Regions from separate parts of the Homo sapiens genome. Here regions 1 and 3 are each reported to be linked to region 2. Evidence: microRNA targets listed by miRTarBase, many of them from high-throughput screens and not tested one by one. Region 2 holds a microRNA gene; each other region holds the end of a gene's coding sequence. Distances are between the middles of the regions.
The links. The annotated mature microRNA hsa-miR-216b-5p reads AAAUCUCUGCAGGCAAAUGUGA and lies in region 2 at 2,380-2,401, shown strand. An mRNA with a match to its seed (bases 2 to 7 or 8) in the 3' UTR can be bound and repressed. Matches are read on the target gene's strand: a 7mer-m8 pairs with bases 2 to 8, a 7mer-A1 pairs with bases 2 to 7 and ends in A, and an 8mer does both.

Region 1: the mRNA of COL4A4 is a reported target of hsa-miR-216b-5p. Seed matches in the 3' UTR shown: 7mer-m8 at 1,120-1,126, 7mer-m8 at 1,204-1,210 and 8mer at 1,453-1,460.
Region 3: miRTarBase lists C1GALT1 as a target of hsa-miR-216b-5p. Seed matches in the 3' UTR shown: 7mer-m8 at 3,469-3,475 and 7mer-A1 at 2,344-2,350.

What each region holds. Positions count from the first base shown.
Region 1 is chr2:227,003,784-227,007,993 of GRCh38, reverse strand. It overlaps COL4A4 (collagen type IV alpha 4 chain), which reads left to right. Exons shown (of 48, transcript NM_000092.5): 48 at 406-4,210. The coding sequence ends at 669. Among named protein-coding and RNA genes, the nearest start is that of COL4A4, 160 kb to the left of the region's middle.
Region 2 is chr2:55,998,916-56,003,164 of GRCh38, reverse strand. MIR216B (microRNA 216b) reads left to right here and starts at 2,370; the gene lies at 2,370-2,451. All of the region lies in intron 2 of MIR217HG (MIR217 host gene), which reads left to right. The region is part of intron 3 of LOC105374690 (a long non-coding RNA gene); the gene reads right to left.
Region 3 is chr7:7,243,223-7,247,471 of GRCh38, reverse strand. C1GALT1 (core 1 synthase, glycoprotein-N-acetylgalactosamine 3-beta-galactosyltransferase 1) reads right to left here. Exons shown (of 4, transcript NM_020156.5): 4 at 1-3,948. The coding sequence ends at 3,745. Among named protein-coding and RNA genes, the nearest start is that of LINC03016, 9.8 kb to the left of the region's middle.

The DNA of each region.
Region 1 (4,210 bases), 170 Mb from region 2:
CTGGCTCATTCACCATTTCCTAACACCTTCTCCCGCCATTTCTCTCTGGATTGGACAGTAATTCTGAGCACTCTGCGCTTAGGACATAAGGTTACGGGGACTGTTGCAAACCATAGCCTGTTGGGATGCAGGGCCATTATCTTTTAAAAACACTTGTGATTGATTTTGATCACATTGGTAGAATTTAGAAGATGAGTTTGCTTCAGCCATCGGTGAAACTGGAGCCAATTTGTGTGCATACTTACCATGCTGAGTACGACTCCTTTTCAGCGCTTGTATTTTGTTCTTTATGGAATAATCTAAGGAAAAATGTTAAGATCAGACCCAAACCTGGGTGTGTCCCTGATTGGGTCTGGGGTTGTCTGTGTGTGTCTGAGCCCTAATTCTCTCTTGTTTTCTGGGTAGCACACAGGAGCTGGGGACCAAGGAGGAGGGCAGGCCCTTATGTCACCTGGCAGCTGCCTGGAAGATTTCAGAGCAGCACCATTCCTTGAATGCCAGGGCCGGCAGGGAACTTGCCACTTTTTCGCAAATAAGTATAGCTTCTGGCTCACAACGGTGAAAGCAGACTTGCAGTTTTCCTCTGCTCCAGCACCAGACACCTTAAAAGAAAGCCAGGCCCAACGCCAGAAAATCAGCCGGTGCCAGGTCTGCGTGAAGTATAGCTAGAGAATGCGAAATTCACCAACACGTGGCCAAGAGAAACTTCCTAGGGGGCTAAGACTTCCTAGACTGTGCTAAGAGATGTCATGGTGCTCATTTTGGACTCCCTTTCAGTGGTTCCTTCTGTTTTGTCGTGGTTATTCCCAGAGTCCTCTGGTTCCTTACACATTAAGCAAATGCTGCACAGATGGATTTGTTTGGACCTCCCAATCTAGGGAGCCTAGATACTCTTATTTTACTGAGGATGATCGAAGAACTGGCTTTACTTAAAAATATGCTAATTCTCAGAAAGGCAAGTAGATGATAAAGGCCAGATTACAAATTACATTACTGAAAACTTCATTCTTGGGTTAACAGTATCTCAAACAATTGAAGTCAATTACTCTATAATACAGTGGGCTTCTGGATGGATTTTATAGGAAAAAATAAACAGGTCAATGAATGAAACTAGAAAGCAGAGATTTTCAACATTTCAAAATGATTTCCTCTGTAATCTATTTTTCCATATACTTTAAATAATGGTAAAACCATGACGCAAAGAGAGATTTTTTTTTAAAGAAGAAAAAAAAAAATTCACACTGCCAGCGTTAACAGTTCCTTTCAAAGGAGAATGAATCATGATGGCAGGAAGGCCCACAGTCGCCGTATTCCAGAGATGCGACATTAGCATAAACACATCACAGATGAATATAAAACATTATGTTCTCTTCTGCATTTTTCAGAGAATAGAAATGCCTACTTTGGCAACCCTTTTGAAAAGTAGCAATTATGGAAAAAAAATATTCAATAAGAGATTAGGAGCCTAAAAGCTATTAGTGAATATTAAGGTAGTTATTCACAAAAATTGACTCCCCATTGCAGTGAACTTCCAGACAGACTGCTTTTCCCCAGTCGGGGTCCGGCGTGTCACAGGTGCGTGCGTGCTAATGGGACTGACGCTACATGGGGCTCACTCAGGCAGGCACGCGCTTCATACAAAGCATCTCACTCCCCTCCCCAGGAGAGCCTGCACAGCTTCTTGCACTCACAACGGACACTTTGCTCCACACACATAATGGCAGCTCACACAGGGACGTGACAGAGCTATCATTATGCACTTGGGAGAAAATTAAGGGCCGATTTAATTAAACTTAGGTAAGAAGATTCATTTAAGTCAGGGTTACCCCATCAGGAGGACATGGCACTATCTTTAAACGAAACAAAGACAATTTATAATTTGAATTTTATGCTCCCGTGGTTGGCTGTTACAGGAGCATCCCATTTTGCCAATTTTAAAGACATTCTTATATTTCATATCAGTCTTGTACCAAGGCAACAGTTTGACATTTGGCATTAGTATTTTCTAAAAAAGTTTAGAATGTGTGTCAATTTATAATGATTATTTTTTTCTGTAAAGCAAAAGATCCCTTTTTCTGTTTTGCTAGGAATTTGGTGATCTAATCCTAAATTTAAAAGATTTGTTGGAAAAAATTTTTAGGAAACTCACCTTCCTCATCTAAAAGAAAAAGGCATTTTAGAGAAAACTAAAGAAATTTCTCATGAGCGTGACACTCATTTTAGTGCTTTGTTTCCGTGCACTTAAAAATAATTGAGAAGAAAAACTCAATTAAAATTTTGTTTATAAGAAATGTTTTCCTTGCCAAACCTTGATTTGTAATGAGCTCTTATATGCAGAACACATTTCAAATGAGTTTTGCTATGGGCTGCCCCCAGGGTGGCAATTTATTTTAAGAGTATTTTCTGGTAAAAAGAAAAATGTGTATTTTAAGATGAAATATTTTCTTGATGTAGCAGAATATTTCCTAGTTCATTTGACCCATTTGATATTTTTTAAACCATGCTCTGGCATGTTGAATATTTTTGTGCACCTAAAACTTAAGCCAATTTCAATCTTATTTGTGATTACCTTTCTCCTTCCCAAAAAGCTTTATCTATTACCAAAAGTCAACCCTCCTAAAAGTTCAACCTGTTCATCTTGAACTTGGCCTGAGAACATTTTCTGGGAAGAGGTAAGGGTGACAAATGGAACATCAGAAACGTATCTTGCTTGCTAATTATTTTAAACACTTTAATGTTGGTATTAGAATATTATCTTCATAAGTTAATAAATAAGTAAAAAAAAAAAACCCACACAAAGACAGGCTAAATTATGTAGACAGTTTACTCCACAGTGAGCTTGGGAAGGTATCAGACTGTTCAAAATGTTAGTATTACAAGAGCTGTCTCTAAATGCAGCATTAACACTGCCCTCTAATTTTACAAAAGTATTTTAAAGGATCAAAAGGGCGGAAAAATAACTTCTTGGAATAGAAGATCCTGTTACCTTAAACCATTATTTTCTTCACCTGGTTATATATCAATGTGCCTTCAATTACCCTTTCTCTGTGGAGGTGATGAACAAAGCTTTTAAGTTGTTCTCCTAACCCATTATTGGAGATGATCCTTATCAAACCCTTCTCTCCCTGCCTCCCCACCAACCTTGTAGACTGGAACGTGCCTAGATTGCCCTAATGGGAACTGTTCTGTTCTGTGCCCGTGCTGGAAATCTGGGATGCTTCCTTCTGGGTTCTGATTCTCAGTGAGTGGAGCCCATTCATCCAGGCAGGTTTCCATGCTATGAGTGGCCCTTTCGTTCTGCTCTCACACTCCCCACATTGAAAGCTGAGTCATCGCTGCTTTGGATGGCTACCTCCTCTTTAGCCCCGTGCCCGTCTCACACAGCCTTTGTTTTCCACCTCCACCCTTGCAGTAGGCATCTCCCAGTTGGTGCCTTAGTTTCAAATCCCAGTTGCCATCTAAGATCCACCCAAACTTGATTTTGTCACCCTCTGGATTAGAATCCTTCTGTGACTCCGCTGCCCATGAAGTCCAAATGACTTCCTATGGGGTGAAAGGTCCAGTGGGGACTGTTCGAGGGTTCCCTCTAGGAGTATTTCCTGTCATGATGAACTGTGTGCAGCTCTGCAGACACTCCCAGCACCTCTTCGACTTTGCTCCTGCTTCACCAGTGATGTCCTCCCTGGGGTCAGTTTACCCTGCGTGGGAGGTGAATTCCCTGGGGGAAACTTAGGCTCCCTTCTGCTGCTCTTGTGCAGTGCACGGGGCTGTCCTCATTTTCTCCGTTCCCCATTGCTTCTTTAATGTCTCAGTGCACTTCCTTCATTCCATTGCCAAAATGCAAGCCCCTTGAGGGCAGGGACCATGCTTGACTCGTTTTTGTATGCCTAATGCCTAGCACAGAGTTGAACACATTACTGCCAATTCATTTTTTTCAATGACAATTCCATAAACATCATTAGGCATTAGGTGTTCAGCTCTGCATATAAGGTCTTCATCAGCAAGACGGTTACAAGTATAAACCATTTCCTATTTCAGAATATTTTAATATTCAACATATTTGTATACCCACATTCTCTTGTTACAATTATTGCCAGAAAGCCAATTGATAAGCTTTCAAAATGGGCTTATCACACCCCTCCAAAAATAGATTTTTGTTTTTTCTATAAACAGAAATTTCAGAAATGAGATTTGAGAGATCCGACTGAGA
Region 2 (4,249 bases):
GGTTCATCTATCATAACAAACGTTATCACTATGGTGGGGGATGTCGTTAGCAGGGGAGATTGTACATGGATGGGGATAGGGTATATAGGAACTCTCTATACTTTCCACTCAATTTTGCGTGAATCTAAAACTGCCCTAAAAAATAAAGTTTACTAATTTTTTTCTTAAAAAAGAGACTTCTCCAGTCCACATCTTGTAAGTTCAGGTTCAGGAGGTAGGTCTTGGTTGGGGCTTGGAAATCTGTCTTCTCCATAAATCCAAAATGTTTCTGATATACAGCCAGCGTTGAGAATCACTGGGTAGATCTTGACCTCTGATCTTTTAAGATGTAACTGTACTGTTCAATTTTTTTTTCAGGTCTTTACTGTCTGCTAGAAATAATCTTATAAATTCATCTGTACTAATGTTGGTGGCAGATAATGCTTAGATATTAAAAATTTGCATTTATAGAAGGGTCTTTTTCTACCTAAGTACTTAAACTAACAAGAGCCCCATATTATAGGCTGGCAGCCTCTAAACAGCCTACTCATAGAGGCAACTAAAATGAGGATTCTGTCTCAAAGCTCTGTTCCATCCATGCCTTCCCATGGAGCAAAGGAACAAACAAGATATCAACAATTGGAGAAATGGCAACTATAATTCCATCATTCACAACTTCAGTTTTCCTTCAAGAGAACAAGTGACACTGTTAATCAGGCCCTGCAAGCACAAATAAACAAAAATAATAATTTGAGAAAAGAAAATGAATGATGGCCTAAGAAGTCTAGTGTTTCTTCCACAACCAAGGTATAGTAGTCTCATCCTTTGGAGCTTTAGATGAACAGACTGAGGATCATAGAGTTTCTAACACAGCCCCTTCTTTCTATGCAACCCAGAATGATGTAGTTCTCTATTTTTAAAAGCAGCAAAAAGGATGGAAGTGTTCTCCCTTGAAGCCCAGATGTTTTCTATCTTTCTAAGCTGCAATTATTTCAACACATTATTTTAGCTACACTTACATCAGATCAGAGCCACCTGTTATATCCTCTGCACACTTATGAGAGATTTACTGTTAAGTTTCTATTTATGGTTTATTTAGGAAAGTCAGAATGCAATTGAGAGGACGCTTTTAAAGTCATCTTGAGGTCCAAGGATGTGTGTATAGCAGATTAACAGATAATCAAGACACTGTGTTGTGTAGTGTAAACATAATCAACCCTAATTTTGTGATTCATTATTACATAAATTTGGACGTAACCCGGACTAAAAAACTCATCATCTGAAATTCAACTACATGCCTGAAAAACATAATATAACATTGTTATACTTTAAGGAAGTTATTAATCTACTCCTAAACCAAGTATTACAAAAAATTGTATTATAATGCATTTTATTGTAGGAGGATTCTTTATTACCAAGATTTACATATTTAAATATTCTCTCATTTTATCTTGTCTGAAATTAAATGTCACTGTAATATCAATAAAATATGTGAATATATATATATATATTTCCTTTCTAATGGTAAACAAGTATTTGCAAAAAACATCCTAAGTAATAGCCAATCATTAATAAATGTTTACTGAGCACCTCCTATAGGCCAGGAATTATTCCATGTGCTGGGATATAGAAGAGAACAAAATATATGAAGTCCCTGTTCTAGGAAAATGTTGGAATAAATTTATAGTTGACATTGACCCAAAACCCGACATTGTAGTGTTAATAATATCACAATATTCACAAGTTAGATTTTTGAGCTCTAAAGTAAATATTGCATATCATGCATTATTCCAGCACTTTAAAGATTAGCAGCAGGTGATGGTATTATCATAAGACCATTATTAGGCAGAAGAAAGATGGAGAGAATAAAAGTAAAAAGCACATCTCCTCATTCTACTCATCTAATCTTGTTATTACTTAGGCATAACTAAATTACAAAAGACTAAGAAACTCAACTGCAAAGTCTAACGTTAGATAAAATTGCTTGAAATGCAAGGATATTTACCTGGATTGACCATAAGGCTTTTGGTGTGACTAACACACTGGTAAAATAAGCACATATGAAACAAACAGCATAATTTGAGAAAAAAAAATGAATGATGGCATAAGAAGCCTCGTCTTTCTTCCATGACCAAGGTATACTAGTCTCATCCACTGGTTGTGGCTTGGGAAACTTCACTTTTCATCTTTTCCTTCATTCTCTATGGAGATGTGTGGCAAAATTAGAGAGTATCCATTCTCATTTATGCACCTATCTGAATCCCAGCTATAACTCCTACTTCCCATCAATTTTAATCTTGAATAAATATAGTTTTAAAATTTAGCAAGACCAGAAAGATCACTGTAGAATGACGACAACTTTTTTCTATCTTAAGTACAACTTCAAAGTGGCAGACTGGAAAATCTCTGCAGGCAAATGTGATGTCACTGAGGAAATCACACACTTACCCGTAGAGATTCTACAGTCTGACATCTTCAAGCATCGAACCATTTCATCAACTATGCTTTTGTTATAAGCAGTTCTTTGGCCTGGAATAAATCTAGCATGGCCAAAAAGCCAAGCTATAGCCCACTTACTGAACTTTAACTTCTTCTAAACCAAGGTGACTACATGCCTCGTGATGGTTGAATCCCACTAAATTAAATTTTAAAATAAGAAGGTTGTTTGTAACATGGCTTAAAGCAGTTGTTGTCAAAGTTTGATTCCCAGACTAGCATCAGCAGCGTCACCTAGGAACCTGTTAGAAATGCAAATTCTTGCACCCCACTAGAGGCCTCCTGAATCAGAAACTCAGAATGGGCCCTGCAATCTGTGTTTCAACAAGCTTTCCAGGTAATTCCGATTCATGCTCAAGTTTGAGAACCACTGGCTTAGAGAGAGCAAAAGATTATAACTGGAACACTAAAATAATCAGACAAAATAATATGTATTCATAAAAATATTGTCTAGAATACATTTCTAAAGTAGTGGTCTTAATAAGTATAAGCATTAATAATAATGGAAAGAAACATTTTCATTTAACTCTTACTTTGCCAATAGAATTGCTCAGATGTACTTATTTCCTTAGAAATAAGGAGTTAAGAAATCTTATTTAAGAGGAGAAAACGTTTTCATGTTTGGGAGGATTAAAAGGGTACTGACATCATTCAAGTCATGAGCCATAATTCTTATTAGATTTTATTGCTACATTCTTCGCACAGCTTTGGAAAGTTATTCCTAAGAGCACAAAATATGCACTTAGACTGCACACAGAGAAGGAAAATGCTCTCACAATGAAATTATTTTAGTCTGGCCCAGTAATATTTGAAAGACTCAAGATTTGTTCTCTCTGAAACATATCCTGTCAAAATAAGAGATGTTTGTTTAAATTTATAGTTTTCAACATCCTTTATAATTTTCCCTCCTAAGTTTAATTTGTCTGTAAGCAATCCAATTTCTATATACTAAAAAAATTATTTTCCCTTCTCCTCTAATATAATAAAAATGTCATGACTAAAAGGTAAAACAAAAAATAAAAAGTATTAAAAATTATTATTGAAATTGGTCTTCAATGACAATGAATAAAAGCCATAATTTGATTTTTATATATTTATAATAATGTTATGTATCTGTTAGTATCTGAAACATTGGTATGCCTGTTAATCAATAACTTCTGGTAGCATGTTAAAAATTCATCTTCAGTTTCATTCTTAGTGAATTCATTTGGATTATTTCTGGACCACACCAATTTCCCATGATGTGATGGAAAAAATTGTAACATTCAAAAATTGAATTAGATCACACACAAAATGTCAACTCACTCAGATTATAATAATAAGGTTTGGCTTGTTCATTGAAAAGTGGAGCCCAACTATGTCTAGAGTCTGTAAACTCAGTGCTGGAGATCAACAAGATGTTTTAGACACTTCACCACTTCAGGTGACCTGAAAGAAATACATTTCCTTAGATGAGGATAAGAAGGCTCTCCAAATATCAGGTTTCTTTGCTTTCATTGGATTTAATTCAACTCAATATTGATGCAATTGCTAATCAGAAGCTCCAACTAACAGTCTAAAATGCCTTTGATAGTAACAAAAGAAAAAAATTATTAACCATATATGCAATTTGTTACACAAAATATTTCAAAACATGAGGTTTCATTAAAGGAAACAATAAAAACATTGCTAGGAATTTAGCATCCTCCCAGGCAGTAGGAGTGTTTTAAGTATTTGATAACAACGACCAATAGTCACTATTGCATGAAGCACTCTACACATATTATTTAACTTA
Region 3 (4,249 bases), not on the chromosome of region 2:
TGATTTATTTTCATACCTCATTACAGTAAGAAAAAGCCCTCTGAAATTTATATTTGAAAGCAAACTGGGACAAAAATCTGCTTTATCTATGAACTTCCCACTAGAAAATACAAGCATACCATTATTAGAGAACATAAGACATCAAAAGCCTTATGTTTTAAAACCATACTGAAATCATTTACCAAATAACAAAGATCTTAATCTAAAAGATAGTGAATACATCATCATCATGAAATCTGGTTTTATGTGCTCTATGAAGTACTTGGAGAATTGCTTTTTTATTTTTCTTTTGCTTTATTAGGTCACACAAAACAGAATGAATTAGCAGAAAAATGTATGTTATAAAACAGCATTTACTACTTCAATTTAATTTTTTTTACTAACAATTGTGGACCTTTTTGATGACACTTATGTATGTTTTTAATAAATTATGTACTTATTAGTACTTAATGAGCCCTTCCTGCCTCAATATAAAATTACTAAACTTGGAGAATTACAGATTTTATTGTAGGCCCTGATGTTAGTCACTTTGGAGAAGCTAAAAATTTGGCCAAAATGAATGATCCAATGATCCTTTAAGTTATCTTTATATTTAATATAGTGTGATCCTGGACTACACTGATTTAAAACATGCTTTTTGAAAAATGTCTTAGTAATTGGGCAGTAATCTTCAGTGTGTTTCAAACACTACTTGCACCAAAATCACGTAGGTTGTTGGGTATTGGTTCTCAAACTAGGATAAGAAAGACACCTGCAGAGTTTGCTTAAACACAACTGCTAGCCCCTGCCCCTGCCCCTGCCCCTAGAGTATCTGATTTAGTAGATCTGATCTGAGATGAGGCCCCGAGAGAGGCTGCATTTCCAACAAGTTCCCAGGTGACGTTAATGCTGTTTGTTGGGACCAGACTTTTGACAGTCACTGCCCAAGGTATCTGGTAAGAATGCATACTCTTGGGCCCCATGCTTAAATTTGAATTTCTGAGATTGGGGTCTTCAGATCTGCATTTAACAACATCCTGGGCAAGTGTGAGAACCACAGTTTAAGAATCACTGTGACAATTTGGCTGGGTTAATTTGACTATTACTGGCCAATGCATCAGACGTCATATATCATATACATAAAAATGGAAATAATGCTACATGAATAGCCCCAAGCCTGATACGGTTCCAATGAACACACAGGGTTTTGAATATAAATCCTACCTCTGTTACTTACTAGCTTTGTGACAGTGACAAAGTTACTTTGTCTCTGAGCCTCAGTTTCCTTATCTATAATAGGGGTATAACACCCAAATTTTGAGGATTAACACTATTATACACAGATTATCTAAGCACAGTACCTAGCATACAGTTGGCATTGGATAAATACTAGCTATTACTTATTTCCTTCAGTATCTGGTCAAAGCAAATTTTTCATTCACTTAAATGCAGTACTTACACTCCAAGGTAACAGAATAATAATACAATCTTCTATTTATTGCTCCCTATCAATGTTCTAAAAACCTTACATTTATTTAATCCTCATAAAAATCCTGTGAGGTAGGTAGTATTATCATCCCTAATTAAAAGATGAGGAAATTGAGACACAGAGAGATTAAAATTGCTCAAGGTTACAAAAACAGTAAGTGTTAGAGCAAGAATTTAAACCCAAGCAAGTCTGACTCTAGAGCCCAGGATTCATCACAATATTCATTTCCTATGAGCAAATCTCAAGGTTTTTGGATATCTATAGTAAACCATTTATACTTCTAGTCAAGTAACACATATGAAAATTCATGTCCACACCATGGTGAAGAGTTGTTCAAAGAATAAAATGAATGCCTTGAAATTTTGGCAGATGATACTACCATGATAATAGGTAAAAACTGGTGCATGTTTTCACTACGTGGACAGAGTAGTCCATGGTTAACCAATGAAATGAACATCCTCTCAAATATACCATTCAAAGAGGTCATGATTTTGACATGTTTTGGCACAATAAATAGAAATTACTTAGCCGGGTGCTGTGACTCACGCTCGTAATCCCAGCACTTTGGGATGCCAAGGTGGGTGGATCACCTGAGGTCAGGAGTTCAAGACCAGCCTGGCCAACACGGCAAAACCCTGTCTCTACTAAAAATATGAAAACTGGCGGGGCGTGGCAGCGCGTGCCTGTAATCCCCGCTACTCGGGAGGCTGAGGCAGGAGAATCGCACCACTGCAGTCCAGCCTGGGAGACAGAGTGAGACAGTCTCCGAAAAAAGAAATTACTTAGCTAAATAGCAGAGTCAGTGGCATGACTGCCATGTAAAATTGGCATAATGATAAACATGAGGGAAATGTAAATACTTTGTACCATAAAAATAATCTCATAGAAAGTCTGTAAAATATTCTGCTATGACACTCAGTACTGCTAAAGATAATAAAAATAAAAAATTTCTTTCCTTTCAGAAACTCTTTAAACAGAGTCACTAAAAATAGAATGAAACATTTGTGAATGTTTTTGATGACAGTCTTGACTAGGTATTCTGCATTGTTAGAATTATCCATTAGCAAAACAATTATCCCAAAATAGCACCAACCTTCAGACTGTTATTTATAAATTAAGTATCTACTCTTTCAAAATATAACATTTTTGTTTAAGCACTCTACATTTTCTATTGTTTTTAATTCTCATCAAAATCTTGCTTTCTAAATAATCTTGCCACTGTAACTAATAGCCACCTCAGATCCTATAAACTAATTTTAAAACTCTGCTTTAAACAAGTTATGAAAGGCACAAACAAGTTCTCATCCCAACAGGATGAGAATGAAATAAACCATAACTATGTAGTTGGAAAGAGTTTAAAATATCAATTTAAAATGTCACTTAGTAATTCCTGAGAGTGGCACTGTTATAAGAAAAGCATCCTGAAACAGCATTAAATTTATTATTAGTTACCCATAATGAACAATGGGCAAATTTGGGAACAAATATGTAAAATACATGTTTACAGAATGCTATGAACGGTTTGAGTAAATTAATGTTAATAGTGGAGAATGGTATTCAAGAGTGGCTAAACACATTTAGAAAAGAGACAACAGAGATTGCGTAAAAGATGACTAATTAGAATCAAGTATATAATATAGTCAAGGCCCATGATAATTTTAAAGTGTGGTTTTATTAATGCACTTCAGGGTAAGTGCCAGTCTTATTTTAGCTTCTTCTGGAAGAAATACTACCAATTATAAATAATCACAGCAACATTTTCATTAGACAAAAACTGTGTGTGTGGGTGTGGTAGGGGGGTATCATTTATAGCATACTGCAAATATAAACTCAATTCTTGAGCTATATTAACAACACTGAGCAACAATATTTCTTTCTAAAATTTTCTTTTCTTTAAGGCAGATCTGTTTATTACTAACATGGTGCAGTGTAGTTTTAGTAAATTTACTATTTTAGTTTCTCAGTGACAATAACACAGATGGTCAGAAAACAGGCAACAAAATCTCTTTTCTAGTTCCTCTACCTGGCCACCATTTAAAAAACACAAGTTCCTCATATATATAGACATATTTATATATTACTGTATCAAAACACATTTTAACACACTTCACAGCTCATTTAAAGCTTCAGTTTATAGTCATTCATGTGAAAGGTTTCTATAAGGAATGTTCACTTAGAATTCCTCACTGGGATTCCAGTGTTCTATGTCAGAAATGCAGAAGTCCTTTTTCAGTGCAGTGCTAGACATATTACCTTTGTTCATTCATGATTTTCTTTCAAGGATTTCCTAACTTCACTTTTGTATCTTCATTTTTGTTTGCTTGACTAATTTCCTTTAGTATACGTTCAGGTAAGGTAGGTTGATATCTGTATAAATAACCATATGGACGAAGATGATAAACGAGGTATTCTAACTCATACATGGTTGTAGAATCAACATAGTGAAAAGAAACTGCAAGATCAGAGCAGCAACCAGGACCCTAAAAAAGTAGTGGAAACAGGTATTGTTAATAAACAGCACATTGCTAGCTACAATATTTACATACTTATAAAGGACCAGCTAATTTTAAAAGAATACAAACATTAAAGATGGCAAGGTAAAGCAGAGGAACCTAATGTACTAGACCTGTGGAAGAAATCAATAGTTTACTTAGACATCCTAATGATTTAAAACCAATTGAAATTGGTGAAACCAAGTGAAACTGTGGAAAGTATTTTTAAATGAAACAATATTCTCTCACACTCTTTAGCGGATAAAATTACTGAGATTTCTTCAAATCA